Linked DNA regions of Homo sapiens: region 1 is linked to region 2. Evidence: fine-mapped expression QTL. Tissue or cell type: testis. Region 2 holds a variant in brackets; the other region holds the start of a gene. All regions are shown on one strand. Distances are from middle to middle.

Region 1 (15,641 bases), 34 kb after region 2:
TCATTCACCATAAACCCAAGGCCTCAGATATACAAAAACACTCTTCACGGTAAGACTGTTTCCAGAACTCAGAAGCTAGCTAGTCCTAAAAACAAACCTTACCTTTGAATGTGCAGGGTTGAAGAAACCCTGGCCTGCTGAGTTAACACATTCTTCCCTAATCCATATTTATTGTCCCTGGACTAATCTCTCCTGTAGCAAAACAAGCATATTTTTCTGAGCATCTACATTGAGTACAGCATTTATATGACAGTAACAACAGTAATATTAACATGAATATGCCTAGCATTTTATGGACACAGTGTAGGGTAAAGATTGATTTTTAAAAATTACTAATGCATCCTACAAGGCCATTACATACACTTTAATATTTTGTACAAACCAAATTACTCATTCCTCCTCTCAATTTGCTTTTATTTTTACCTTTTGATAAATCTGTGCAGAACTATTTAGCATTGAAATTAGATAATGGTTAGCTAAATTCTGTTTTCTCAGGCCATTTATTATTCACCCAGATTACATTCTGAAGAGGCTTTAACTCAATATCTTAATACATTTGATTATCAATATAAGCATTATATAACTTCTCTACATAAGATAGTTGAATCTTACCAACAATACCAGTGTAATGTCATATTGCAGTATGGTCATGTTACAATTCAGTTTTATTACAGAAAAAGTTATTAAGAACGATAGAGCTATTTGTTACAGCTACTCAACATAATTGGTTCTTGTCTTTATACCGTACAGTACTATAAATAAGTATTATTACTACTCACCATGATTTGATTATTTCTGGGTTTCTAATGGGTTGTGGACTTAGCCAGTCACCCTGTCTCAGTTCACAGGCCCTAATTGACACTGGTCTCTACTATATGCTGTCATACACCAGGATACACTCCCTTCCTATAGACAAGACACAAGAATAAGAATAGTTTATATCTCTGCTACCTGTGCTACAGGATGTCTTATCCTTATCTATTCTTGGGGCAATGGCAATAATAATGAATTAATATAAATTATGAGTGACCTCAGAGATGGGGTCCCTAAGATTATATAAATGTGTCCTTCTGCATCTAAGAAGAACCATTGCCCTATGGTTATTTAGGCCTCCATCTGCGTTAAAGTGATAAAGTGATGCTATTGAGTCATAATACAAGCTCATTACCGGTGCTGGGTCCTAGCATTATCCATCATTAATTGTTGAGTCTACCTTACCCAGTTCACTAAAACTTCATCATTTTTTCCAGGTTGAATCCCATCCCTTCCTCTCTCATAGATGAGAATTCCCTCTAATCTATTTATTTTAGTTAATAAATCTTCTTTCCTTAAAAGCCATTCATGATTAAAAATGAATTCAGCTTTTCTCACAATGCCTAGATCAGCATCTATCTCCCTGAAGGTTTTTTTCTGTTTGTAGGCCAATGCTTAACCCAAGATGGTTGTTGTCATTGTGTACTAGACTTAACTGGAATGAGGAACCATATTTTACACTCCAGACTATTTGGTTCTCAGTATGAGGATAAAAATAAGAAAAAAACAAAACAACAAACAAACAACAACAAAAAACAAGAGTTCTCTACAATTTTCGAGAAACAGAAGAGGAAGAAATGTTTCTCAATTCATTTTATGAAGCAAGCATGACACTTAAACAGAATAAGACAAAGATGATAAAAAAAGAAAAGGAAAAAAAACAAACAAAACTTTAGACCAACATAACCTAGATGCAAATCTGCAAATCTACAAGTATACCCTAGATGCAAAATCCTCAATAACTTGAATACGACACTATGTAAAAAAGTGACACACATGACCAAGCCGTGTTTATTCCAGAAATGCAAGACAGTTTCAATATTTAAAAAAATCTAATAATATAGTTCACCATATTAATATTCTAAAATAGGAAAACACATGATCATTTCAATAAATGCAGGGGAAAAAGACAATATTCAACAGTTACTTGTGATAAAAATTCAGCAAACCAGAAATAGCAGAAAATTCCTTCATCTTGATAAAGAGCATACAAAAAAATCCATCATATTTAGCTGTGAAACACTGAATGTTTTCCACATGTATGCTCAGGAATAAAGCAAAAATGTTTGCTTTTATCACTCTTTTTCAACATAATACTTAGAGTTCTATCCAGTGTGTAAGGAAAAAAAGGGAGAATAAAATAAATGCAGATTGGAAAGAAATAAGTAAAACTGTTCCTATTTGTAAATAATATGATTATATATGTAGAAATTTATACAGCATTTAGGAGAGAGAAGGAATGTAGAAAAGGGAGAGGAAGGGGGAGGCAAAAACAAAGGGGAAGGAGAAAGTAAAGGAACAGTGGAAGGAGAAGCAGTGTCTCACAAAATTAAGAAGGATTTAGCAAGATCAGGACAAAACGTAAAAACAGGTTTCCTGATATTTTTAACTGCATTTCAATAGCTTTCCAAACATAAATATTTTTCAGGTAGTTGAATGCTTTGGTCAATTTCGAGAGTGATGGAAGGCTGTTTTAATGAATTTATAGTGGCCTTTTGTGTAGAGGATTTGCTGGTCTTTTCAAATGACCATAGTCCACATTGATGGGTTGATTGAATATGGAAACCATCTTGAACTCCCAAGATAAACGCCAATTAGTAATGATATATTTTACAAACACACATGCATGCACACACATACACACACAGACATGAGAGGATTTAATTGGATAATAGTTTGCTGAAGTTTTTGAAATCTAAATTCCTCATCTAAATACATATTTGTCTACAGGACATTTTCTTGTAATGTCTTTTTTAAGGTTTTGGTATGGGGATAATGGTAGACTAATAAAACATGTTGAAAAGTGTTTCCTCTTTTTTATTTCTTAAAGTTTTGTGTAAAGTATAAATTATATCTCCTTAAATATTAGTAAAATTTGTCAGTTAGTTTATCTAGGTGGGTATTAATAAATTTAAAACATATATATAGGGATGTTCATGTTATTGCTTTCTTTTTGAGTTTGCCTTAGTAGTTAGTCTCTTTTGAGGGATTTGTACATTTAATCTAAATTAACTAATTTACATTTATAAATTTCATCATGGTATTCATTTAGTTATCCTTAAACTGTTGTAGGACAATGGAAATGTTACTTCTATCATTCTTTTTTTTTTGTTTATTTGTTTTGAGACAGAGTCCCGTTCTGTCGCCCGGGCTTGAGTGCAGTGGCCTGATCTCCACTCACTGCAAATTCCACCTCCCAGCTTCAAGCAATTCTTGTGCCTCAGCCTCTCGAGTAGCTGGGAATATAGGCATGAGCCATCACGTTCGGCTAATTTTTGTATTTTTAGTAGAGACAGAGATTCACTATGTTGGCCAGGCTGGTCTGGAACTCCTGACCTCAAACGATCTGCCTGCCTTGGCCTCCCAAAGTGCTGGGATTACAGGCATGAGCCACCACCCCCAGCCACTTCTATCATTCTTAAAATTTGTAAATTATTTATTTCCTATTATTTTCTCCTTAGTCTGGCCAGAGATTTAACAATTTTATTGATCCCTTCAAAGATCTAAGTTTAGTTTAATTTACTTAGCTATATAATTTTTCTCCATTTAATGTTGTTTATTTCTTCATTAACCTTTATTATTTTCTTCCTTCTGATTGCTTCAGAATTAATTTGTTCTCATTTTTATAATAACAAGCTGGAAGCTTTCATCATAATTTCAAGGTAATTTTTCTTTTCTAATGCAAGCTCTTAATGGGATAGATTTTTCCCTAAACACAGAAATTTCCACATTTTGATATGTTACACTTTTTTAAATTTCTCTTACTTTTGGCTAGGTTCATGTTTAAATATACATATGTGCAAGAATATTTTCCCTTGATTTATATGGATTTAGAGGTTAAAAAAAGGCAAAAAAATTATTTTGGAAATTTCTAGGAGACTTAGTTCACCATAATTGTTACATAATTGTGCATATGTTGCAAGTAATGTATTAAGAAAAGTATTTATATCTGTATACATTTGGTCCTTAATGATGAAATTAATGCACAGTTGTCTAACTATAATAATTTCCTTATAATCACACTAGTTTTCCTTTGGTTCCACAAGATGATGAACCTCACTTTAGTGTGACCAAGCAAAATGAGGTACAAAAACAGTCCAATTAATGTGAAAATATCTCAAATTCATATGAATTTTTAAAATATTTTATATGTAAATTAAATTAGAAATTAAATATATAAAATATTTTATTTCAGAAATATTTGCTTGCCTTTTGGGAATCAAAGTTCAAAATCTTCTATTGTCATCTTTAAATAACTAATTTTTAAGTTAATTTCTACTTGGTTCTATGAAAATACTACCACACAATATGGACATAAAGAAAACATTTACAGAAAAATTGTCCATATGGACACATTTTAAACAGATGATCTAATTAGCATGGTAGCCACCAAACTGGTAAATAAACAGTTTTGTTGATTTGCTGCTTAATCAGCATCTATTCAGAATTCTGTAATATTGTTTAGTAAAACAGTTTATTTCAATCCATAAATGTATTTTATAAATTTATGCCTGGTAAACTTCCAGGTAAACCATCGAAATATTAACTGTTTTCTACAAGTGATGGTCTTTTTTTTTTTAAGCTACTTTCTATAGTGAATTGATGAGAGTTAATGAAGATTAAAATGCTTATTCTGTAATAAAAGCCAATGCTGGCATGCTGATATATAATCTCTATAGATCAAAAAATATTCATGCCTTATTCTCAGATTTTTAATAGTGGCACTAAGTGGTCTTAAAAATTTATTATTTAGACACCTTATCCTATATTTTAAAAACATTTTCTTAGTATACTGTGGATGTTATTATACAAGTCATATAATGGATAGAGAATTTCTTACGTAAATTTACAATATAATTTTTTTAAATAAAACTTTTGTGAAATTATTTTCAAATGTTATAAATGTTAATCAGTTTTGTTATATTGGTTCCAATATTTCTCATATATGGAAAATGTCATTTTCCCTGGGAATTAATATTTGGAGCTGGTGTTTAAGAAAAACCATGTTTGATGTTGGAAAATGCTATGTCCGGTATAACTATAGATGTTTGGAAAGCAGCTCAGTTATGCTAAAGATAAAGAAAGGAGAGAAAAATGACAGAAGGGGAGGTTTGAACAAAACAAAATAATACCTGAAAATGTTGAATGGATATGTAATATTTGTGAATGTTTATGTTCTCTATTTCACCATTATTTAAACATTTATATTTTCAAAGGGAGACAATAATTATATTTTGAAATCATTTTATTTTTTTACAGAGTGCTGCATTTTTTCTTTTCAATTTCAATTTGGTGAGCAAGCAAAATCGGTCAGAATATTATACATAATTAGGTTTCCTTTTTGAGATTTGTTGAAACTCTTTATCCTTTATGTATGTATTTCAAGTAGTATAATAAAAAAGAAATATAAAATGATTAGATATACATAAAAGTATTGTAGATTATGTTTTTGATATTTTCTTTCTTTTAATATATTTTGCAGATATAGCCATTCCAGATTATGATTTCACAAACTAAGATGATTCTCAGTAGGGAAGCGTTACTGCATGTCGTTTTCATCAAAGGGAGCTTAGTTTATTTGCCTGTCTGAATATTGACATTATATTACTAATTTACACATTGGGGAAAGGGTCAAGAGAACTCCAAATTTTTGTTGACTTGATATTAACCTGAAAGGGGAATGTTAATAACTGACAAAATATTTCCACAGTAGTTAGACATCAAGATAAAGTTGTGTTTTTTAATCTACTTCATATTGTTGAATTATTTAGATAGATAGATAGATAGATAGGATTGATTTATTAGATGTACAGGAAATAGAATTCACTGGTGGGCTGAGTAAAGAGGGGGCAGCTCTTTTCTAATGCAGGGCTAGCTGCTTGTCCAGGGGCCCATGATTCCAGGGCTATATCTAGCCCCACAGCCATCCAGGATGAGTTGTTTCTCAGCCACCAAGTCTTAAAATGTATATGCATTAAACTTAGTAAAATTGCACTTCTTTGAGATGTGGCTTTTTGGGCATTCACTGAACTTGAACTTGGCCCTAAATAAGTTCATCCTTGGTATGGATGAACATGGCCAATGTGAACTCTGACCTCTGGGTCCTGAGGCTTTCCAAAGGCATACTACATCCGGTCTTAAACCTAGACTAGGGAAAGCACTAGATCCGAGACATAAATGTCCAATGGCTGTTGTACACAAGGAACAGGCTGCTGTACACTACCTAGGATGCTGCTGTTTGCAGCCCTTGCACACCAGGCCCCATGAGAAAAAGAGCTGTGTGGCTTAATTGATTGTAGAAATTATTTTATATATTAAGTTTTTGGGGAGTAGTATCTTTTATTCAAGATAGCTAAATGTAATTTATATTAGACCATATACAGTAAGTTGTAAATTATAGAAGTTGTGCATATCAAAATCATACTCAGTGGGCAATATGGCCTTTAATATAATAAAGTTTATTGACAAAAATTAAAATAAAATCATGTGGTTTTGTAGTGCTCTTGTATGTTAACTAAAACAAATTAATAAAACCTATGAAACCCATAATCATTTAAACTATCTACTTACACTTTGGGAGGCCAAGGTGGGCAGATCACCTGAGGTCAGGAGTTCAAGACCAGCCTGGACAACATAATGACATCCCATCTTTACTAAAAACACAAAAATTAAACAGGCGTGGTGGTGCATGCCTGTAATTTCAGCTACTCAGGAAGCTGAGGCAGGGAGAACTGCTTGAACTCGGGAAGGGGAGGTTACGGTGAGCCAAGACTGGGCCACTGAACTGGGCGACAGAGGGAGACTCCATCTCAAAAAAAAAAAAAAAAAACCACAACAAAAAACTATCTACTTAAATACCATTTTATTAAAATAAATATTTTTCTGTGATCTTAGGTTTGTTTTGTCTCAACACTATAAATAGTGTATTGGTTGTCTCAAAGTGTTAAATAGAAGCATATTTTAGGGCATTGCTGAAATATCTACCAACTTTTCTTACTCTAAGTTATGCAATGGTGTATTGATTAATGCATTGGAACTTGTTAAGCAGTTTGTATGTCTGAAAAACCAAGGTTCAGAGGTATGTAGGTTAAATCCGGCAATCAAATATCACAGAGATATTTCAGAATATTATTTTTGTATACCAGAAAATACTTTTCAAAAAAAAAAAAAGTAAGGTCATTAGGAAGGCATTGTAAAGTTAATCTTTTCCAGCAAAGCTATTACATTTATTTTTCTGGAGCTCTTTAGTTATAAAAAGCAGAATGTAGTTATAGGATCTAGTCAGCATTAAATTGATTAAAAAAATGAAAAACACTTTCATCTTTAAATAGATTAACAATTAAGCATGTTGTTTATGTTGTCCCACTGATATACTAGAATATGCTACATTCTTTGGGGCATCTTTTAGACCATAGGGCTAAAATGTTGAGAATGACAGAGAGACAATTAGGAGCTCAGCACAAAGCAAAATGTTATGAATCAGGAAAATAAATAGAACAGAGATCAAAATTAGATAGATGCAGAATTGGAATGATACTGAAAACAAGAGATGGAACTGCAGAAAATACTATGGCAGATCATTCATTCCTTTGAATGGTGAAAGTAGTTAATACAACGGCTGACAATTGAAATGAAAAACCAGACCCAGATGAAAAAATGCAAACCAGTAAACTTGCCTAGTCCCATTATTTTACTCAATTGTAGGAAATACATGGAAAAAAAGTTGTTCATTATGGATCCTTTTTTCTAACGTAGGAAGAAGGCACCACTACATCTTTCTCATTTTTTTTACTCAAATGTTTGTGTTTTCTCATAGAACTTACAATTTTAATTTATCTTTCAATATATGTTGCCCGTACAGTCTAGTTAGATTCATAGTTGCAATGTTTCATGTGGTATATTTGCTCCCTATGGAATAGAACATAACATTAATCTCTAGATGTGTCACTAGAGAGATTTGTATATATCCACAAAAATCTACAGTTGCAACAAGAAAAATTATCCAGTGAAAATTTTGTGATATGAATGTCTTTCAACTTTTTAAAAAGTAAAGAGAAAATGATGAACAAATATGAGTTGGAAATCAGAATGAACAAATCGTGAAAATATAGTGTACCCCTTCAAAAAGTTTGAAAATTAAGAGAAATTGGTAGAACAGCTGTATTATCATTTACAAAAATGTTTCTCTACCTATAGAACAAACAATTACTTTGTCCTCTAATTTTCAAATAACTTACAGAACATTTATTTCCTACTGTCATTGGAATGGCAGGCTAGCAGGCTGAGTTCATAGCCCAATTGGTTCCTCACATCAAAAGATTCCCTTTATTATTTCCTTATTTTCTCTTTAATTCTGGCACTCCTTCATGATTGAACTTACAGATGTTCTTTTGTCTGCTAATCTTCGAGTAAGCCTGTGCTCTCTATAACTTTCAGTCTCAATTTCCTTCTACCATCAGCCTTTTGTCTAAACATTCTTATTCTGGTTTGTTTCCCTGAACTCTTGACATCAATCTCTGTTCCTTCAATATTATGTTTCTTCTACTGGAAGCAACAGATTTCCCAGATTTCACCCATTTTCCATTTTACTCTTCTCAATCTCTGTGTCTGAGTTAATTGCTTCCTTAGGTTTCTATGTAGGATTGTCTCTCCATCAGTAACTTTCCTATATCGCCCATGTTAACGTACCTATATCGTTTACTGAAAAATTTCTCCTTTAAAAAAAAATCAATGTGTTTGTTTACTTTCTTAAAATGCCCTCTTAAACTGCAAGGTCAAAGAAGGTAAGTATGATATTCGGATATTATATATCTACCACTTAATACAGAAAATATTCCAGCACTTGTATAGGTAGTATAAGACATAATTTTAGAACTCTAAAATAAAAACTCACAAATTGAAGTTAAATATCCATTTCCCACTGTTATCTCCTTTTCCTTTTAACACACTGATATCATTTGGATCTGTGTCCCCACCCAAATCTCAAGTCAAACTATAAGTCCCACTGTTGGAGGTGGGGCGTGTTGGGAGGCAATTGGATCATCTAGCGGTTTCTCTTAAATGGTTTAGCACCATCTCCTTGGTGCTGTTCTTGCGATAGTGAGTGAGTTATTGTGAGTCTGGTTGTTAAAAGTGTATAGCACCTCCCCACTTCTCACTCTTCTTCCTGCTTCCAGCCATGTGAAGTGCTGGCTCCCCCGTCACCTTCTGCCATGATTGTAAGCTTACTGAGGCCCACACCCAGGCAGCCCCAGAACCTGCTGGGTTCTGCTCTCTGCGACTACCAAGCCACCGGTGAAGAGAGCAGCCCACGGACACACAGGCAGACCTGTCCTCGACATCCCAAGAGCGCCACTTTTGGGGAGACTCACCCGCACACTGTCCGCGCACGCCTGAGGCTGGGATCCCGCGCTGTCTCCCCGGAGATCTGTCTGAGGTTTCTTCCTCCTGATGGACCCTCCGCGAATCCCGGCCTCCGGAGACCTTCCTGTTAACTGCCCTGGCCAGGACTGGTCTCAGCCCCGACTCTGACCAAGCTCACACAGGGTGCCTGCTTAGCCAAGTCTCAAGGACCCATCCCCGGGCAACGGTGGCGGTCACTGTGACCACAGCGGCGGCTCGGGCCTCGCGCATGCTCACTGGCGAGGCCGACTCACCCGCCCCACGCCCCCTTACTCCGCAGAGTCAGGCTGCAGACCCTTTAAAAAATGGCGGCGACATGGCGGCTGCGGGGACTGGGGTGGCGGTGCTGGAGGTTGCGGCGGGGACTGCGGCGCAGCCCGAGGCAGAGGGTGGGAAGAGGACTACCAGAGGGGCCTGCGGGAGACTCAGGGTCGGACCCATAGGAGTCCTGTCGTCAGGACCTCCTTGATCGGTCTCCTGCTTCTGTTCCCGGTGAAGGAGGACCTTCGGGGTGCTGGCTGGGCTGCGCGGACACCTCTTGGGATCCGATGATGGCTCCCACCGGCTGATCGGGAATGGGGTTACAATGCAGTGAGGCGGAAAGGGTCTCGCCGGGGCACGGAAAGATCCCCAAGGCCGCAAGGCGTGCTGTCGTCTGCAACGGCACTGACCCATGAGCCCACTGCCTCCCTCCTTCCTGGGTGGAGCAGGGGCCTGCCTTCATCTCCAAGGCCCGGGGGCTCCGGCATCCCGACGCAGCTTCCGGCGACATCGGCAAAGACAGAGGCGAGTCCGAGCTGGAGCCCGTGTGACCAAACGTGGCACTGACGTCCCCCAAGAGCACATGCAGAGAGCGTGTGTCTTTGAGGCCGTAGGGGGCGACGACGAGACGGACAGTGATGTCCAGGCGTGCGCCCGGGGGCCACTGGAGACCTGCCCCACAAAGCAGAGGAAAAGCCAAGCGCACCTGCAAACCTGCGAGACAGGGCCTGTGCGCGAGTCCAGGCCACATTCAGGGAGGCCCGCCAGAGGAGCCCAGAGCTTTGGACCAAGTACACCCCACCCCCACGCCGCTACCGCTTAGGTACCCCTGACGCAACCTCCCCTGCACCCAGCCAAAACCCAGTCCCGTTGGCTCCCTGACATCCGTGGCAGCCAAAAGATTCAGTGCCAGAAGGCGCTTTCCCCAGGAGCGGAGGGACCGGTTGGCCCTCAAGGATCAGACAGGAAGTGCAGGTGGGATGCAACACCGCCTTTCCTGGAAGGCCAATGTGGGGAACGGTGGGCTTGCCTCCCCCTCTTCCTGGACCGAGCGCGCAGCCATCACTTGGGCCATGGAGACCAAGAGAGCTTCCCTGTCCCACACAGGTATGGAAGCCCAGAGCTCCAGGATCACCACACCTGCCCAATCATCCAGAAAGAGGTGTGGAGAGGGAAACGATCATGACACGGACGCCCACGGGGTTTCTCCCTGATGGACTGGGAAGTCTTCTTTGTTGAAGACGTTGAGCCAGAATAAGAAGCCGCCAGGCTTCTCAGAGACGGGGCAGACACAGCAAGAGGGAGGACAGAGCAGAGGCCAGAGTCCAGGCAGGATACGGGGCCATGCCACCACCACGGGCATCCGGAGAGGAGTGTCAGACGGGTGACTCGGCCAGGAAGGCCAGCCTTTGAGTGACAGAGATGCTTGCCCCATCCCCTTGCCGGCTTCCTTCTCCGTCCCTGCGTCGATCTGTGGCTCCATTTCTCCATGAGGGAGAGGGCGAGAGGCGTGAGAACCATCTTCTTGAAGGTCTGCGGGCACCCTCCTGCGGGTGGACAATGAGCGCCTGGGAGGCCGTTGTCCTTGCTTGGGGAGCGGTCGTCTGGATCTAGCCTAGCAAAGAGGCTGCTCCGGATGGGGAGGGGACGAAAACCCCTGCGGTTCCGAAGCAGATGCCGGCGTTGCCCAGGCCCTCACAGACCCCCAAACCGGAACCGCCGGGAAACCGACTGCTAACCGGCCACACGACCGAGGCAGAGACGCGGGGAGAGGCTGACCAGAAGAAAGGCCGACCTGCAAGAAACCCACCCTCCGGCACACGAGGCACATGTGTCCCGAGGCACAAGCACACACAGACGGACAGAGATAGAAAGAGAGGGCGACGGAAAGAGCGAGGGGGGGGGGAGAGAGAGAGAGAGACAAGAGATAGACAGAAGTGGGCACACGGACGCCACGCACGCACGCACACAGACACACACACACACACAAACACACACACACACACACACACAACCAAGACGCAAACAGACATACAGCAGGTAACACCCACCCCCAGGCTGCCCCTGAAGCTGTCGGGTTCTGCTCTCCGCGACTACGAGGCCACCGGTGAGACAGCAGCCCACGGACACCCTGGCAGACCTGTCCTCCACATCACAAGGGCGCCACTTTTGGGGAGACTCACCCGCACACCGTCCGTGCACGCCTGAGGCTGGAATCCCGCGCTGCGGCCCCGGCGATCTGTCTGAGGTTTCTTCCTCCTGGCGGACCCTCCGCGAATCCCGGCCTCCGGAGACCGTCCTGGTAACTGCCCTGGCCAGGACTGGTCTCAGCCCCGACTCTGACGCACAATCACACAGGGCTCCTACTTCGCCAATTCTCAGGGACCCATCCCCGGGCAACGGTGGCAGTCACTGTGACCAAAGCGGCGGCTGGGGCCTCGCGCATGCGCACTGGCGAGGCCGACTCACCCGCCCCACCCCTCCTTACTCAGCAGAGTCAGGCTGCGGACCCTTTAAAAAACGGCGGTGACGCGGCGGCTGCGGGGACTGGGGCGGCGGTGCTGGAGGTTGCGGCGGCGGCGGCTGCGGCGCAGCCCGAGGCGGCGGGTGGGAAGAGGTCTACCAGAGGGGCCTGCGGGAGACCCAGGGTCGGACCCATAGGAGTCCTGTCGTCAGGACCTCCTTGATCGGTCTCCTGATTCTGTTCCCGGTGAAGGAGGACCTTCGGGGTGCTGGCTGGGCTGCGCGGACTCCTCTTGGGATCCGATGATGGCTCCCACCGGCTGATCGGGAATGGGGTTACAATGCAGTGAGGCGGAAAGGGTCTCGCCGGGGCAAGGAAAGATCCCCAGGGCCGCAAGGCGTGCTGTCGTCTGCAACGGCACGGACCCATGAGTCCACTGCCTCCCTCCTTCCTGGGTGGAGCAGGGGCCTGCCTTCATCTTCAAGGCCCGGGCGCTCCGGCATCCCGACGCAGCTTCCGGCGACACCGGCAAAGGCAGACAGAGGCGAGTCCGAGCTGGAGCCCGTGTGACCAAACGTGGCACTGACGTCCCCCAAGAGCACATGCAGTGAGCGTGTGTCTTTGAGGCCGTAGGGGGCGACTACGAGACGGACAGTGATGTCCAGGCGTGCGCCCGGGGGCCACTGGAGACCTGCCCCACAAAGCGGAGGAAAAGCCAAGCGCACCTGCAAACCTGCGAGACAGGGCCTGTGCGCGAGTCCAGGCCACATTCAGGGAGGCCCGCCAGAGGAGCCCAGAGCTTTGGACCAAGTACACCCCACCCCCACGCCGCTACCGCTTAGGTACCCCTGACGCAACCTCCGCTGCACCCAGCCAAAACCCAGTCCCGTTGGCTCCCTGACATCCGTGGCAGCCAAAAGATTCAGTGCCAGAAGGCGCTTTCCCCAGGAGCGGAGGAACCGGTTGGCCCTCAAGGATCAGACAGGAAGTGCAGGTGGGCTGCAACACCGCCTTTCCTGGAAGGCCAATGTGGGGAACGGTGGGCTTGTCTCCCCCTCTTCCTGGACCGAGCGCGCAGCCATCACTTGGGCCATGGAGACCAAGAGAGCTTCCCTGTCCCACACAGGTATGGAAGCCCAGAGCTCCAGGATCACCACACCTGCCCAATCATCCAGAAAGTGGTGTGGAGAGGGAAACGATCACGACACGGACGCCCACGGGGTTTCTCCCTGATGGACAGGGAAGTCTTCTTTGTTGAAGACGTTGAGCCAGACTAAGAAGCCGCCAGGCTTCTCAGAGACGGGGCAGACACAGCAAGAGGGAGGACAGAGCAGAGGCCAGAGTCCAGGCAGGATACGGGGCCATGCCACCACCACGGGCATCCGGGGAGGAGTGTCAGACGGGTGACTCGGCCAGGAAGGCCAGCCTTTGAGTGACAGAGATGCTTGCCCCATCCCCTTGCCGGCTTCCTTCTCCGTCCCTGCGTCGAGCTGTGGCTCCATTTCTCCATGAGGGAGAGGGCGAGAGGCGTGAGAACCATCCTCTTGAAGGTCTGCGGGCACCCTCCTGCGGGTGGACAATGAGCGCCTGGGAGGCCGTTGTCCTTGCTTGGGGAGCGGTCGTCTGGATCTAGCCTAGCAAAGAGGCTGCTCCGGATGGGGAGGGGACGAAAACCCCTGCGGTTCCGAAGCAGATGCCGGCATTGCCCAGGCCCTCACAGACCCCCAAACCGGAACCGCCGGGAAACCGACTACTAACCGGCTACACGACCGAGGCAGAGACGCGGGGAGAGGCTGACCAGAAGAAAGGCCGACCTGCAAGAAACCCACCCTCCGGCACACGGGGCACATGTGTCCCGAGGCACAAGCACACACAGACGGACAGAGATAGAAAGAGAGGGCGACGGAAAGAGCGAGGGGGGGGAGAGAGAGAGAGAGACGTAAGAGATAGACAGAAGTGGGCACACGGACGCCACGCACGCACGCACACAGACACACACACACACACACACACACACACACACACACACACAACCAAGACGCACACAGACATACAGCAGGTAACACCCACCCCCAGGCTGCCCCTGAAGCTGCCGGGTTCTGCTCTCCGCGACTACGAGGCCACCGGTGAGACAGCAGCCCACGGACACCCTGGCAGACCTGTCCTCCACATCACAAGGGCGCTACTTTTGGGGAGACTCACCCGCACACCGTCCGTGCACGCCTGAGGCTGGGATCCCGCGCTGCGTCCCCGGCGATCTATCTGAGGTTTCTTCCTCCTGGCGGACCCTCCGCGAATCCCGGCCTCCGGAGACCGTCCTGGTAACTGCCCTGGCCAGGACTGGTCTCAGCCCCGACTCTGACGCAGAATCACAAAGGGCTCCTACTTCGCCAATTCTCAGGGACCCATCCCCGGGCAACGGTGGCGGTCACTGTGACCAAAGCGGCGGCTGGGGCCTCGCGCATGCGCACTGGCGAGGCCGACTCACCCGCCCCACCCCTCCTTACTCAGCAGAGTCAGGCTGCGGACCCTTTAAAAAATGGCGGTGACGCGGCGGCTGCGGGGACTAGGGTGGTGGTGCTGGAGGTTGCGGCGGCGGCGGCTGCGGCGCAGCCCGAGGCGGCGGGTGGGAAGAGGTCTACCAGAGGGGCCTGCGGGAGACCCAGGGTCGGACCCATAGGAGTCCTGTCGTCAGGACCTCCTTGATCGGTCTCCTGCTTCTGTTCCCGGTGAAGGAGGACCTTCGGGGTGCTGGCTGGGCTGCGCGGACTCCTCTTGGGATCCGATGATGGCTCCCACCGGCTGATCGGGAATGGGGTTACAATGCAGTGAGGCGGAAAGGGTCTCGCCGGGGCACGGAAAGATCCCCAGGGCCGCAAGGCTTGCTGTCGTCTGCAACGGCACTGACCCATGAGCCCACTGCCTCCCTCCATCCTGGGTGGAGCAGGGGCCTGCCTTCATCTCCAAAGCCCGGGGGCTCCGGCATCCCGACGCAGCTTCCGGCGACACCGGCAAAGACAGACAGAGGCGAGTCCGAGCTGGAGCCCGTGTGACCAAACGTGGCACTGACGTCCCCCAAGAGCACATGCAGAGAGCGTGTGTCTTTGAGGCCGTAGGGGGCGACGACGAGACGGACAGTGATGTCCAGGCGTGCGCCCGGGGGCCACTGGAGACCTGCCCCACAAAGCGGAGGAAAAGCCAAGCGCACCTGCAAACCTGCGAGACAGGGCCTGTGCGCGAGTCCAGGCCACATTCAGGGAGGCCCGCCAGAGGAGCCCAGAGCTTTGGACCAAGTACACCCCACCCCCACGCCGCTACCGCTTAGGTACCCCTTACGCAACCTCCCCTGCACCCAGCCAAAACCCAGTCCCGTTGGCTCCCTGACATCCGTGGCAGCCAAAAGATTCAGTGCCAGAAGGCGCTTTCCCCAGGAGCGGAGGAACCGGTTGGCCCTCAAGGATCAGACAGGAAGTGCAGGTGG
Region 2 (15,641 bases):
CTGAATTAAAATGGATATCCAAGTTATAGGTATATTTAAAGGCCTTTAAATTTTTCTCTGCATGGATCTTGTTTTTCTGGAAAAAGGTTCTTTCTCTGTTGAATGATTTTTTTTTTTCCCATTTTGTCTTGTCATTCAGTGCATACATGAGAGGCTCTAAGATAACTTCTGATAGCCTGGGGCTCCTGGGAAAAAACAAAGAAGGTGCCGCAGACCCCATTTTGGGGAAAAAAACACCCTCTGTTTTCCTCATGAAACCCCAGGAATTAAAAGTGGATAGATCCTTCTCAAAATCTATCTCTGTCTTCCAGCTATGCCTGTTTATTAGGCCCTAGAAACTGTAGGCTGTCCTAGGCCCTGCTCTTGAAGGGCTTCACCCAGAGGCCAATAATCTATTCAGGAGATTGGCAAATGAAAAATCTTACAAGTACTGAATTTGCTTTTGTTCATCTGTGTAATTTTATATTTCTTATGGGCATGATGTTTATATAAAAAAGCTCTAGGAAAATAAGCACTTAGATCAAATATTTTTTGAAGAAAAATAAAAGCTGTAATACCTTTCGAGTTCACATGATTATAATCTTTAAGAAATAAAGGCAGTTTTAAAAATAATTGGTAAAATACAAATGTCTTTAAAACGTAAATATGTGGGCTGAATCATGTAGGTCAGACACTAGGTTAGCTAAATGATTCAAAGTTATTAACTGCTTCTTTGGCTTTTAAGAACTATTTGATAAAGTTTGGCTCTGTGTCCCCACCCAAATCTCATCTTGTAGCTCCCGTAATTTCCATGTATTGTGGCAGGGACCCAGTGGGAGATGACTGAATCATGAGGGTGGGTCTTTTTATGCTGTTCTCGTGACAGTAATGGGTTTCATGATCTGATGGTTTAAAAATGAGAGTTTCTCTGCACAAGCTCTCTTTTTTGGTTTGCTACCATCCACATAAGATGTCACTTGCTCCCCCTTACCTTCTGCCATGATTGTGAGGCCTCCTCAGCCATGTGGAACTGTAAGTCCAATTAAATCTCTTTCTTTTGTAAATTGCCCAGTCTCAAGATTGTCTTTATCAGCAGCATGAAAATTGACTAATACACTATTCAATTTGCCTGCTTCACAATTAATAAGTCCAGGGACATATGGAATTAACCACACCCTTAATTATGCAGGAAGGAATCAGAATTTATTTATGCCTACTACATAATTAAAGCAACTTGCCAGGTTTTACATTAAAGTTAAAAATTGCTAACAGTTACCATAATAACCTGTAATAGAGACAATGAAAATAGATTTACATATAACATAAGTAAGGAAAGTAAAATATATTTTTAGTAAAAGATTATAAGAATGCATGAAAATGTAAATTTTTGCCTTGGGTTAAAGGATTGTTTTGAATTAGATAAGATAAAGCTGAAGGTTTAAACAATTGGTGAAAGGTTTGTAAAAATTAATCTTGCAAAAGAAATTGTGTGAACATATTGACTAATTTCAAAAAAGTATTTTGTTTTTGTAAATTGAGCATTGAAATAAAAGCACAACAAGGTTTTCTAAAGGCACTGATACGCTCTTTAACAACAATTTGTAAAGGGTTATAAAAGTTTAAAAAAATCTCACCTCATGGTCAACCTAGATAAGATTAGATATAATTGTCTATAAGTTTTCATTAAAAAAATTGGGGTTGACATCAGCAGTAGACTAATGCAAGGATGAAATTAGGCTTTCACTTGAACAGGATTTCCCTGTAAAATTAACGACAGATTGTTTGGAAAGCTAAGTTTTCCCTCTTACTGTGAATATGCTTTTGCGTTGTTTTAAAATGTTTGAGTCATCATTTTGGCTAAAATAAATGACATATGGTAACTTGGAATTCTATTTTATAATATCAAGTGCTTTGAACCTCTAACGTATTTAACAGGCTTCCCAAAATCAAACTTCAGTTTCAAAATTGTCTTTCCTGGTCCCTGGAACATCCAAAAGAGAAGAAAACTGGATTTTTTGAAATGTTTAGTTATATGGTATTTCCAAAGTTATATTTAATCTTCTTTAGGTTATATTTTAGTGAATAATATTAATATGTTTCAAAATTATATGAGATTTCTAAAATTCTAATGTCTGAGTATATGCTATCAATCATGATTAAGGTTATTATGTTTCGTTATTGTAAACCCTAGAAATAACTAAATTTCTTTGTCAATTGTATTCTTGACAGTAACTACCCTGGACATTTCATCTTTCACAGACAAATGACTTGTTTTGATCCTACTCAAAAGATGATTTATAATCAGCTATAGGATTTTGACAAGTGTTCTCAATGCAAGATTCCATTAACTCTGGAGATTATGACATTGAAAAAAATACAGTACTCATGAAGAACTGAAATGTTCATGAATATCAAGCAGAACAAGAGAACAGAATGGATTGAACTAATAGAAAACAAGTATTATTTTTAACCTTTTTGCTTAAAACTTTGGTGATCCTTGCTTTGTTTTTCTGAGTCAAGGATACTTATTTTGAACTATTTAAAGCCTTTAATAATTGAGTAAACTATATGCCTGTGAACAAAATTTGAAGGACGTTTGTTTCTCTCTGCCTGGCTTTGCCAGAATTTGGAAACTATTTGTGAGAATATTTAATTTATGGCAATACAGTTATTTTCATCAGTGCAATAAGAATACATTTTCTTTTGCAACAGGACACGATTGAAGAAACTGGTGGTTTTACCGAGGCTTTTACTGGAAGGGTATATGTTCCTTTAAGTAATTAAGCTGGACTTGCCAATAAAAGTCCCTTGGGAAAACTGGCTACATACCTTGTCAACACAGTCCTTGTACAAGGTTCCTAACCCGTGGGGAGTAAAGCATGTCACTTTTTAACAGGGCTAGGAGCCTGTTAAAAAGCTCCTGGGCCTGTTAAAAAGCTTGTTCTTGGGACATCAAGAAGAGAATGATTTACCAAACTCGTAGATATTTGAGGATGGAAACCCATGGCTGGGCTTGGCCTTAAAAGGTCTTAACTGAGATTCCTTATGGAACAGAGTTCCATCAAAGCCAATTTAAAATCCTATGGGAAAAATAATTATTCTTGTTGCACTTTATGCAAATAAGACAAGTATAAGGCTAAAGTTTATTTTTCAAACAACTGAGTCCTATCATGATTTGTTTTTGACAAAAATGAGGACTGGAGAGAGAGAAATTATGTTTCAAAACTTATTCTACATTTGTCATTACATTATAATCCCATTAGTTGTTTTTAAGTTTTTGCCTACTTTTTAGACTACCCTGCTTATTCCTGTTGGACCAACCAGCAATGTATGGCTGCAGCTCAAAAGAACCAAAGAGATGAGTAATATAAAAAATCTGGATCAATATTTTAATTCTGAACAATTATCCTGCAAATCCTTCCAGGTGATAGGAGTAAATACGTGCCCATAACCCAGAGGTTTCTTTGTTTGGGAAAATAAGACCAAGGGAGCTAATCAAAGCCAAGCCCCATGAATACAAACCTTAGCAGGCATAACTATAGCCACGAGTTATCTGGCTGTATTGGCAGCCTTGAGATTTTTGTTTTGTTTTGTTTTGAGCTGTCCTTATCCCTTTGTTTCATTTTGAATGTGTCCTCTAATAACCCAAATTGTTTCTTCTCACTTAAAGGCCATTCAATTTCAAATGGTGATGCAAACAGAACCACTCATGAACACACCGTTCTCTTTGGGGACCCTTAAACTGACCTCAGGAGGAGCCTTAACTGCCACTTTCCCAAAACAGCACCCCTTGTCGGCAGGAAGCAGTTAAGAGCAGTAGTTGTACACTTTCCCCAACAGAATTTGGGGTCTCCACTCCTGAAGGGAGGAATGAAAGGAGTCAGCCAACTTGCTTTAGGGAGACAGTCAGGAAAGGATCCCCTGGAGAACCTCCTACCCACCCCCTAGGTGCTTATACCAAATATTTTGTGCAGATAAGGGTACTTGCTAAGGGAGCTTGCCTAAACATGCCCATAGTGGAAAATTTCGTTCCTTAACATATGTGCATTAAGGGAAATAAATCAATATGGAGCGGCACAGACTAAGGGCCCACATAACTCACCGGAAAGATGGAGTGGAGCAACCAGGAATTCACGTCTCATACAACCAGGAATTCACAGCCCTATCAGCTTGTATAAAAATGTCCTTGTTGCCGGGTGCGGTAGCTCACACCTGTAATCCAAACACTTCGGGAGGCGGAGGCGGGCAGATCACTAGATCAGGAGTTGGAGACCACCAGCCTGACCAACATGGTAAATCCCATATCTACTAAAAATACAAAAATTATCCGGGCCTGGTGACGTGTGCCAGTAATCCCAGCTACTCAGGAGGCTGATGCAGGAGAATTGCTTGAACCTGGAGGGCAGAGGTTATAGTGAGCCGAGATCACGTCATTGCGCTCCAGCCTCGGCAACAGAGTGAGTTTCTGTCTCAAGAAAAAAAAAAAATGCCCTTGTATTCAACCATTAAGGGGGCAACCAAGAACTTGGCATCAGGACCCCTCTCTTTGCTGAGAGCTTTCCTTTCACTAAATAAATTCTACTACACTTACTCTTTGAGTGTCCATGTGCCTACTTCTTCAGAACTTAGGCCTAGCTGGGCTAAGGAGCAAAAAACCCTGCATCATATCTCAAACTCAACCTTTAAGTTTTTGTCCCACTAGTCTCCTTAACATTTTGCAATACATTAAAATTGCTTCAAGGTTTTTTCAAAATGTGTTTTTGGTAATTCTGCTAATTTATGCTGTTTAAAACATCCTGGCTGAATGATTTCAAATAAATTTTATAACATCTATTTCCATTTTTTTCCACTCAGTACATATGAATCCACTGTTTAATCCAAATTTAAAGTAACAATCATTAAAGTAAATTAAAATGGAGTCCAGGCCTGAAGAATTTCTGAGCAGACAAAAGCAGTTAGGCATCATAAGTGATCTAAACCTTGATTGATCTACAGATATAAGGGAAACTTGAGCTATTCTTATCAATTTCTATGTTAAAGAAAAACAGAACTTAAGTTCAACCAATCAGAAGTAGCCAACACACATAATCATATAACTGAAGACTTTCCAATGGGATAGACCTAGTAAGGTACAACTTTGGTACCAAATAAGGTACAAATAACTGTACAACTATAAATAGTCAAACATTACCTTTAGTTTTCTTCTGTGCCTGTCCTCTAAAAGCCTCCCCCTGTGCTCCCTCAGTGGAGCTCTTAAGCCACTTTTATGGTTTGGAGCTGCCTGAGTCATAAATCATTGTGTAAATAACATATTTAAAATTCTATTGTGCCTTAGTTTATCTTTTAACACAGTGGTCCTCAACCCTTGGTAATGAGCTATGGCTAGTTAGGAATCAGATCATACAGCAGGAGGTGAGCGGCAGGTGAGTGAGCATTACCACCTGAGCTCTGCCTTCTGTCGAATCAGCTACAGAATTAGATTCTTATAGTAATGTGAACCCTATTATGAACTGAGCATGCAAGGGATCTAGGTTGTGCATACCTCATGAGAATCTAATGCTCGATGATCTGAGGTAGAACAGTTTCATCCCTGTATTAGTCAGGGTTCTCCAGAGGGACAGAACTTATAAGATATATGTATATATGAAAAGGAGTTTATTAACGAGAATTGACTTATACAGTCACAAGGTGAAGTCCCATGATAGGCTGTCTGCAAGCTAAGGGGCAAGGAAGCCAACAAAGACTTAGTTCAACTACAAAAGCCTCAAAAGTAGGAAAGTTGGCAGTGCAACATTTAGTCTGTGGCCAAGGGCCTGAAAGCCCCTGGAAAACCACTGCTGTAAGTTCAAGTGTCCAAAGCCTAAAGAACCTGGAGTCTGATGTCGAAGGGCAGGAAGCATCCAGCACAGCAGAATGATGAAAGCCAGAAGACTTGTTAAGTCAGCTTATCCCACCTTCTTCCACCAGCTTTGTTCTAGCCAAGCTGACAGTCAATTGGATGGTGTCCACCCACGTTGAGGATGGGTCTTCCTCTCCCAGTCCGACTCAAATGTTAATCTCCTCCAGCAACACCCTCACTGACACACCCAGAAACTATTCTTTACCAATTATCTAGGCATCCTTCAATCCAATTAAGTTGACATCTATTATTAACCATTATAATCCTAAAACCATCCCCTGCTCCCCTGTCCATGGAAATATTGTCTTCCACAAAACCAGTCCCTGGTGCCACAAAGGTTGGGGACTGCATAGAACTCAATGAAATGAGAAGTAGTTTCTGATTCAACTAATGTCTGTTAAGTGATTCTCTCTATAGATCCAAGTATTATGAGCCACCTCACACAATCACATTCATGAGATTTCTATTACTCTGTGTATTGGACTTCAAGGAAGGAATGGAATGCCATCATTAGGCACCAAATACTTCCACTATTGATTAGCATTGAGATTTTTAGTAAATATTTAGGAGTACTGGGGGACGAAGGAGAGACAACACTATTTATTCTTGTACTAGAATACTCATTTTTAATGCCTATAATTAAATCAATAGGAAAGTTATTGAGAAAATCTGGGCATTTTGAGATAATTGAAGAGTAAGTATTCCATATGTATGTCAGTTGAAAATTATTTTTGCTATTTGCTTTTGAAAGAATATAATAATGTTAGCAAATGAGCAAGGTAATTCCTGGCTGAATTATATAATTATTTACAGTACTTCCAAAGATATTAATCTATTACCATTATATGTAATTCATGGGGAATTATATTAAACAATAGATAAAATATCAAGTTAATGTGTTTCAGGACATCACTCACAGCATAATGAAAAACTAACTTACTTCTGTATTTCAATAGCTTCAATACCCATTCAACATTACTGTGCATTACAAATCTATTGGTAAATTGCTTGCAAAAATAAGACTGAAAACAATTTTAAATTAAGTGTACAAATTTTTCTCTTTTTCTTTTGAAATAATTAATATTTTATTTTATTACCATAGTTTCCTTTAACTCTATAATTTGAACTGAGATGTTTGGAGAAAAAATATTTTTAAAAGAATTTATAACAATAAGAATAACTGTTAGAATGCCAGTCCTATCAGGAAATGTTAGAAATATATAAGCAAAACTCAAAAGTAAATATCACTGTCTGTCTAACCATATTCCATGCGTAGCTTCTACTACTGTTCCCCAGAATTGACTGTTTTATCATTTCTCTTGACTTTTGATACATTTATTCATATATCCTCCATCCTCACTTAGTCCTTACTGTTTATACTTCGGCATCATATCAACCCTATCTTGCCACTTAAAAGACAAAGTAATACTACTTTTTCAGTTTTTTTTTTTTCATTTAATGTAAGAAGTTCTCATTTCCCCAATAGTGAAACGATGCAAAATGATTATTTGATGTATTGTCCAAATGGGTTCAGGTTTGTGACAGTCTCAAACACATCAGGGAGTAGGGACACCCTTCAGTTAAAGCACAAAGTTGTTTTTTAATCTGTATTTTATTTTTAAAAAAGATTTTTTCTCAATATCACATAAACATTAAGCTCTTTATTTTACCTCTCTATTTACTTATTTACATGATTTAAGATTGAACATTTTTCATTATCAAAAATATTTTCATATGTGTAAAATTGTTGAAATCTTAATTTTTCCAAAATGACAGCTGACTCCTCTTAAAGGTAATGGGAATCTTAGAATGTTATTTGCAAATCAGTCTACAGCATTCTTTTCATATATAAAATGTGCACTAATTTTTGAAATATTTGTAAATTAAATAGGTCATTTTTCTTTCAGGAGAAAGGAGACTTTGAGAGATTTTTGTGCAGGAGAAGAGTAGTTTTAAAAATAGGTAGTTTGCAATAGGGCAGACTAGTTTTAAAACTCTAAAATGAGAACAAGTCAATAAGATTCTCTTGATTAAATCTAGTGATCTTATTTATTTATGAATTGACATATAATAATTGTACATACTCATGGGGTATAATTTGATACCTGGATACCTATCCATGTTGTACAATGATCCATTCAGAGTGAATCTATTATCTTACATATTTATCATTTCTTTGTGGTGAGAACATTCGAAGACAACTCTTCAAGCTATTTTGTAATATACGATATTTCACTGTTAACCATACTTGCTCTACATGCAACAGAACACCAGAATTTATTGCTCTTATCTAGTTGTAATTTTATACCATCAATCAAAGTTTCCTCATCCTTCTTTTCGTCCTCCCGTCTTTAGTCTCCAGTAACATTTTTCTACTCTCTGCTTCTATGATATTAACTTTTTTAAATGTTTGTATTTTCTTTTTTTTTTTTAGACTCCACTTATGAGTGAGATCATGCTGTACTTGTCTTTCTGTGTCTGGCTTATTTCACTTACCACGATGTCTTCTGGATTCATCCATATTGTCATAAATGGCAAGATTTTATTTTTTATGGCTAAAGAGTACTTCATTGTATACAGATCGCGCATTTTCTTTATGCATTCATCTGTTGCCAGACACTTAGGCTTATTCTGTATCTTGGCTATTATACATAGTGCTGCAATAAAAATGACTAGATGCATTGCAATTAGCTTTAAAAAGATGGAACAGCATTGTAAGGACAGACCATGAATCTAAGCCCTTAGGTTGAATACTTAGGTTGAATAAAATTGTTGGAGGAAGTGGATATTTGATGTACGTAATGAAAGGGATTCTTACTTGGCAGGTATTATTAGAAGAAAAAAAAAAGAGAGAGAGAAAGTTGAAGGAGAGGGGAAAACTGCCACAGCAGGTTAAGCAACTTGCTTTAAAATAATTGGGATTAGTAAGTGTGCAAAGATAGAACTGGTGATGAAAGAGTGAGACTGGAATTAGGAATTAAT[C/T]TGTAACATTAATGTTGCAGGTTGGGTCCTGGTTATGAGACTGAGCGGATGCTCATTCTTTGGAGCTATAACTCTGACCAGTGCCACATTAACAGATTTGGAAAATATGAGATTAACTATGAAGGTACAGAAAATAAAGGTGTTAAAATTATTTCTATATTTTAGATCTAATTGTTAATAATATAGTATATACACATACATACTATATTATATATATATTACATATATATAATAACATATATATGCAAAAAGCTATGGTAAATAGAAAACATTAGCTGGGCATGGTGGCTTATGCCTATAATCCCAGCACTTTGGGAGGTGGAGGCAGGAGGATACTTGAGCCCAGGGGTCTGAGACTAGCCTGGGTAATATGGCAAGACCATGTCTCTACAAAAAGTAAAGAAAAGTAGCTGGGCCTGGTGGCACACACCTGTCATCAAAGCTACTCTGGAGGCTGAAGTGTGAGGATCACTTGAATTCAAGAGGTCGAGGCTGTAGGGAGCTGTGTTCCAGCCCCTGCACTCCAGCCTGGGTGAGAGCACAAGACCCTGTCTAAAAAGAAGAAAAAGAAAAAAGAAACATTATTGAGGAGAAGAGATAAATAGAGTCTTAGAAATTTGAATTGATACATGAGTAAAGAATGACCCAATTATTTTATACTGGGAATGGGAAAATAAATTTTATACAAGTCCACAAAATAGTTTTTAAAGGATAGACAATATAATACAGGGGTTGGGGGCATGGTTACAACAATGTTAGAAACGCTGAAAGAGCAAAAGAGGCCTGCTACTCCAGATGATGAGCAAATGAAGGAAGCCACTTCCATCCTTAACTGTGAAAAATGAATAGGGGAAGGTGGTGCATTCTGGGTCCCATGATTCCAGACTGACCATTGGCCCTATTTGAGTGCAGCTGCTGTTAGGCAGAAACTCTGGACTCCAAACTCTCAGTAAAACTTCTGAAGACACTGCTGTTGCTATTGCAGCTGTCAGCACCATTGATTCAGCTGAGAAGCAGCCCAGAATTTCACACTGACACCCACGCTGTTGGTTGTGTTTTTTGAACCAGATTGAAATTAATATCTATTGTATGGTTCAATTGCTATGAAGTTCAATGTCAAGCAAATGTAATTTATAAAGATAAAAGTAAGAACAGTGGTTGCCTATAGTAATGATTGGAGGTTCACAATAGAGACTCCTGGATTCTAGTAATACTCAATTCATATTCATGTAGGTTGTGATGACATTCTAAAAATGTTTAAAGCTATATGCTTAAGATCTGTGTCTTTCACATGTGCATATCATATTTCATATTCCAATTAATAAATCAGTAAAAAAAGTTCCAGTTCAGGATACAATACTGTAGAACAATCCAAATTATTAATTTATTCCTAAAGTTTTTAAAATATTAGAATAAATACACAGCATTTTGTTAAAACAATATGGTAAACCTAAATGTAAAAAAAAAAAATTAAATTGAGTTAGGAGTTTCAAAAAGACATTTCATATGCCTTTTCAACTTTCAATTTCATATGAAAGTTGAAAAAACTTGAAATCAGTAAGTATGCATGTGTATGTAAAACAAAATTACTGCATATAAAAACTTCTTTGAGACATCTAGAAAATATTTAGCAGTGTGCCATAGTTTAGAGGCATTTTAAAATGCTTTTTAGTGGTACATAAAAAATTAATTAATGACAGTCTATGAAAAACAAGTAGAGCAGCTTGAAATAATTCACATATTTTTCACGTAAAACTTTTAGGAGAAGTCCAGTGATGTCACGATAGCTCTACAATGTTGATTTATTTTGTTGCTTTTATATGCTTATTTTATATATAAAATAGCTGAAAACAGCTATGAATTCTAAAGCATGGTAACAGGGGTAAAAGGTCACACACATTTCTTTTAGATGCTGCAAATATTGCTTCTGTTCACATGTTATGGTCCAAAAATTAGTTACATTGCCTCATCAAAGTGCAAGGAGGCTGGTAAATGTACTCTAATTTGCTAAATGCCTTGCAAGATATAGGGATGTATATTGAGAAGACAAAGAATGGAAGTGAGAATTACTTGTTATTTTGACTTCCAAGTATCGGAGAACATTCCCAAAGAAATATTATACTAAATTTCTGCCTGATTAATTATTTCAGCATCTCTTTCATGATCTTTGCTTAAGGGCAGTGCTGCCAGCTGAGGCTGCATAGAGTCTCATATTCCATAGACTAACTGTCTAGGGTAATTCAGACTTATAACCTAAGTTTATGTTACAACTTTTCTAACTTATGTTCCTTTGATGGAGTTTATCCTCATTGCCCCACCCCCCAACTGGTTTACTAATATAGTCTAAAACAGAAACATTATTCTTTTTATGTTCTTTAATCTCCATTGAAATAAACATAATTTGTAGAATTATTAACTAATAGAAATTAATTGAAAAGAAGCATCTTTCTTTTATATGAACAATGACACAGTTCATATTTATCTTGAAAACAGTTTTAAGCACAAGTAATTACCCTGAATATGTAAATAACCCATTTATAAGTAGGTCAATAGGGAAACCTTTCAACCAATTTCAAACATGGTATCATTTCTAGATCTTATGAAATAATGGAACATGTTTTGGAAGATAAGAGAAGTTTACTCAGCCAATAATAACAGGTCTCAATAAATTATTTTTTAACAGCTAGTTTATCCCTGGATATACCTTACTATATCCTATTTTTAGATATGGCATTTGAAAACCTCCAAGAATATAGAGATAATTTTAATTGAGCTATTATGGTTAGTATTTATTTTTAAAGTTCTGAATTTTCTTAAAAAATTCAATATTCTATGGTATATTAACAAGATTGATTGGAATAATGCATTTTTTTAATGTAGTGGGTTGGTGATATGTTTTTCTGCTGAGAAAGAAGGCTGTTCATAATCTTAAATTATATTAGGTTTTAGAAACAATGAAAATTGTGGGATTCCCTTAATGGCTTTCTTACACTTGAGTTCTAAAATATTTATCAATCTCAAATATATTTTACATTATGTTGAAAAATGACTATTAATAGTTTTTGCTGAAAAAAATTATCAACTTTTTGTGTATCACCATTTCAGAGTTGGGCTTATAAAAATATCAGTATCTGTCCTACATATATACCAATGTCTTTCAATTTTTAGTCAATTAAATATGTTTCATTGATTTTCTGCTGTGTGCCTAAAACTGTGCATGATGATATTATAGAAGGTACTGTGAAAAGGCTTAAAGCAGTATATTTAACCACTGCCTACCAGAGTAGTACATAGAGAAGCAAACCTAATCTATAAGCAACAATGAGAGCATGCTACAGATAACTTTTAATATTGTAAATATATATGATACGGATGATAAAATCTTTATGAAATAATCTATAGGAGAGGTGAAATGGGTCTCTGCCAGGAGAATGCAAAGGCAGTAAAAAATTAAAAACCAAAATATTGAGAATTATTTTGAGGAAAGTGTTAGTAGAATTTAATAATACATTTAATAGAAACATAAGATTAAAAATGCAAAGATGAATTCAAAGTTGCTTACATTCAAAAATAACTCATTAAATGTACAGTATTTTAAGCACACTTTTGATCTATGAAGAGTATAAATATGAATAAGACATAGTTCTTTATGCTAGACATAGAGAATATTTTTTGTACAGAAATAAAATCTAGAGTATGTAATATTAGGGGAAAGAAAATGCCTCATAGATGTCAATAAACCTTGTTCCCTCTATTTTTTTTTACTCATTTCATTTCCTGTAATAATTGTGGTAACAGTAATACTGAAACAATTAAACCTCCAACTCTTAAAACAATAAAAGTTATTGCTTGCTTAAATAATAGGAATGCTATTTGTGATTTCCCGCAGGGTCATTCAAAGATTCATTATTTTCCCATCTGTGGTTTTGCCATCCTCAATACATAGCTCTTGGGGGTTTTCTGTGGATTGTTTTAATGTTAGCCAACCAGAGAGAATAAAAAGAGTATTAAAAATTATTACTTGTGGGTCTATGTGACCCTGTAAGAAGGCTATATCACTACTATATACTTAGAACCTAAATTTCTATGCCAAAATATAGGCGAATATAGCAAATATTGTCCAAATTTACAGGGAAAGAGAAAATGAATTGTGTCTTCATCTTACAGTTTCTAATAAAATCCCCAACATTGAACTTAAATGACTCTCCAGTTGTTCATTAGGAGAATATGCTGTTGGTTGACTGCCAGCATACATTATCTCACCTTTTCTTTCTAAGATAGAACATATTCAATATATCCAAGGCTTCCAAGGCTTCAGTACTTCTCTAAGTTTACTGTCTCGTCTTCAGATTCAGGTATGATGTGATTACTCTAAGTATAGCCTGATTCTTTGCCAAAAATAAGAACAAAAATAAACATATGACCCAATTCAGCACAAAGGCAAATCAGGGCAAATTACCTTAAGAGTTTTTAAAATAAATGTTTCTCTTGGTGTCTCTTTCTTGGTCTTCTGGGTAGGGTTGTATCTGAATATGATGACCCTAAATGTCTGCAGACATTTTTGCAGCAATGTCAAGGGTAAAAGTGACACAGCCAATAGCAAAGAAGTGCCAGAAAATACGTAAGCAAACTGTGACCTCTTTTTACCTCTTGATTGACTTTTAGGTTAAATAATGAATGTACCTTATGCTTGAAAGAATTTGAAATAGTATTTGGCAGTGAAGAATTTACTCCTCCCATATTTTCATTCAAGAGAAATTTCCATGAGGAGGGTTGTTGGTGGGTTACCTCCAACTCAACCACTTCAGAGCTACTACAGTGATAATGCATGTTGAAGAAAAGAGTCAAACCGTGAAATATTTGAAGAGATTTATTCTGAGGCAAATATGAGTGACCTCGGCCTGTCACACAGCCCAGGAGATCCTGAGAACATGTGTCAAGGTTGTTGGGCTACAGCTTGGATTTATACATGTGAGGGAGACATAAGACATCAATCAGTACGCCTAAGATATACATTGGTAAAATCGGGAAAGGTGAGACAACTCAAAGCAGGTGGGGGTGGGGTGGGTGAAGGCTTCCAGGTTAAAGGTGAATTCGAAGATTTTCTGATTGGCATTTGAGAACTGGCTAAAATAATTTATCTAAAGACCGGAATCAATAGACAGGAGTGTACGGGTTAAGATAAGGTGTTTTAGAGACCGAGGTTCTTATGCAGATGAAGCTTGCAGGTAGCAGGCTTCACTGAGAATAGATTGTAAATGATTTTTATCAGACATAAAAAGGAAAAAGGACTTGGAATCAGGAAAAATCAGGAAAAAGACTTGGAAAGACAACGGGATTCTCTACAAAATGGAGATTTTCCCCACAGAAACAGCTTTGTAGGGCCATTTCAAAATATGTCAAAGAAATGTATTTTTTTGGTGAAATACTTTTTCTTTCAAGGCCTGCTATCTGTCATGTTGATATCTTATTGCTACGAAGAGTCTGTTTTGTCATTCTTAAGTCTCTACTTTAATGTTAACACTGTTCAGCTATGCATGAATTCCGAAAGGATGAAAGTAAATAACGAGGCATGTTCAACCACCCATTTCCATCATGGCCTCCATTACTGTTTCAGGTTTAGTTTAAAATGCCCTTGGCCAAGATAAAGGGCCCATTTAGTTGGTTAACGGACATTGAATTTTATTTTTGGTTTACATGCAGGTGCCATGCTCTCCTTAGGTTGCTCCCTGCCAATGCTGAGCAAGGAAGATATTACAGGGCTTTTCATTCTTGTCCCACGTGGACTCATCTAAAGGTCAAAATTCACTTTGGTGCTCTTTCACTGACAATTTCTCAGATCTGCACTCTTCTCTGAGGCTCCTCCTTTCCAATTATCTTTCATGCTCTCTCTTCTTTTGAGGTGCCAGGCTTGCATCATGATCTGGAGGCTCTTGCAGCCTCCTTTTGCTCTATCTTCTCTTTATTCTTCAAAGGCGTTTTCTCTGGTTACTGTATTATATGTGTAATTCCATCTTGGTGTCTGATTCTTGGGAAACCCAAACTGGCTTATAATTTTTCTTACTTTCAGTAAAAGCTTCTTTGCTGATGCATCATTCATTAATTCATTAAATGTATTGTGTTTTGTATGGGAAAACAATGATGCCAAAGTGTCTATAGCTATATAGTCTGATATGTGCTATAATAAGAATTTGGAAAAAGTATTATTGGTTCATAAAGGCAGAAATTTAGGAGGTTAGATACATTTAAAGTAAAATTTCATTAAAAAGTGTGAACTTAAATAGATTAAGATAACATGGGGTGTTTGTAAAATATATTAGTAAAATACAATGACATACCCAAAGTCCTGTTAAATCAAATTAAATATGGCCTGAGAAAAACGCCATACTTCTGTATTTCAGTCCTTGTGAATGAACTGCAACCTAACTCAATAGGTACACAAGACTAAAACCTAACTTAGGAGTATGCGCCTGTAACAATCGCTGAGTCTTGGCCAAGTCCAGCAGCCATACTTCAACTAGTCGCATACAGCTGAGTGTTCAAATAAGGCAAGTGCCAAGCCGTAATCAATCCAGCTGTTTCTGTACCTCACTTCTGATTTCTATACGTCACTTTACTTTGTATTGTCTATAAATTCATTCTGACCATGAGACACCGCTGGAGTCTCTCTGAATCTGCTGTGATTGTGGGGGCTTTCCAATTTATGAATCATTCATTACTCAATTAAACTGTAAATTTATTTTGGCTGAAGGTGTTTTTTTTTTTTTTTTTTTAGCAGTCC

Direction of the effects. Alleles are on the strand shown, and positions count from the first base shown. SD is a standard deviation of normalised expression in the study named.
For the expression in testis of the gene that starts at base 9,634 in region 1, C is the high allele of the variant in region 2 and T is the other (small effect, 0.23 SD a copy in GTEx).

What was found. PIP is the estimated chance that this variant, and not a neighbour inherited with it, causes the effect.
Region 1: it holds the start of SNHG27, and the variant in region 2 is the best candidate, but not a certain one, in a credible set for the expression of SNHG27 in testis (GTEx, PIP 0.67).

What each region holds. Positions count from the first base shown.
Region 1 is chr4:131,758,831-131,774,471 of GRCh38, reverse strand. SNHG27 (small nucleolar RNA host gene 27) reads right to left here and starts at 9,634. Exons shown (of 3, transcript NR_125884.1): 1 at 9,405-9,634; 2 at 780-906. It also overlaps the pseudogene LOC124900177.
Region 2 is chr4:131,792,698-131,808,338 of GRCh38, reverse strand. It overlaps LOC105377425 (a long non-coding RNA gene), which reads right to left and starts at 4,162. Exons shown (of 5, transcript XR_007058477.1): 1 at 4,082-4,162; 2 at 3,727-3,837. The variant C/T (reference allele first, on the strand shown) is at 8,861.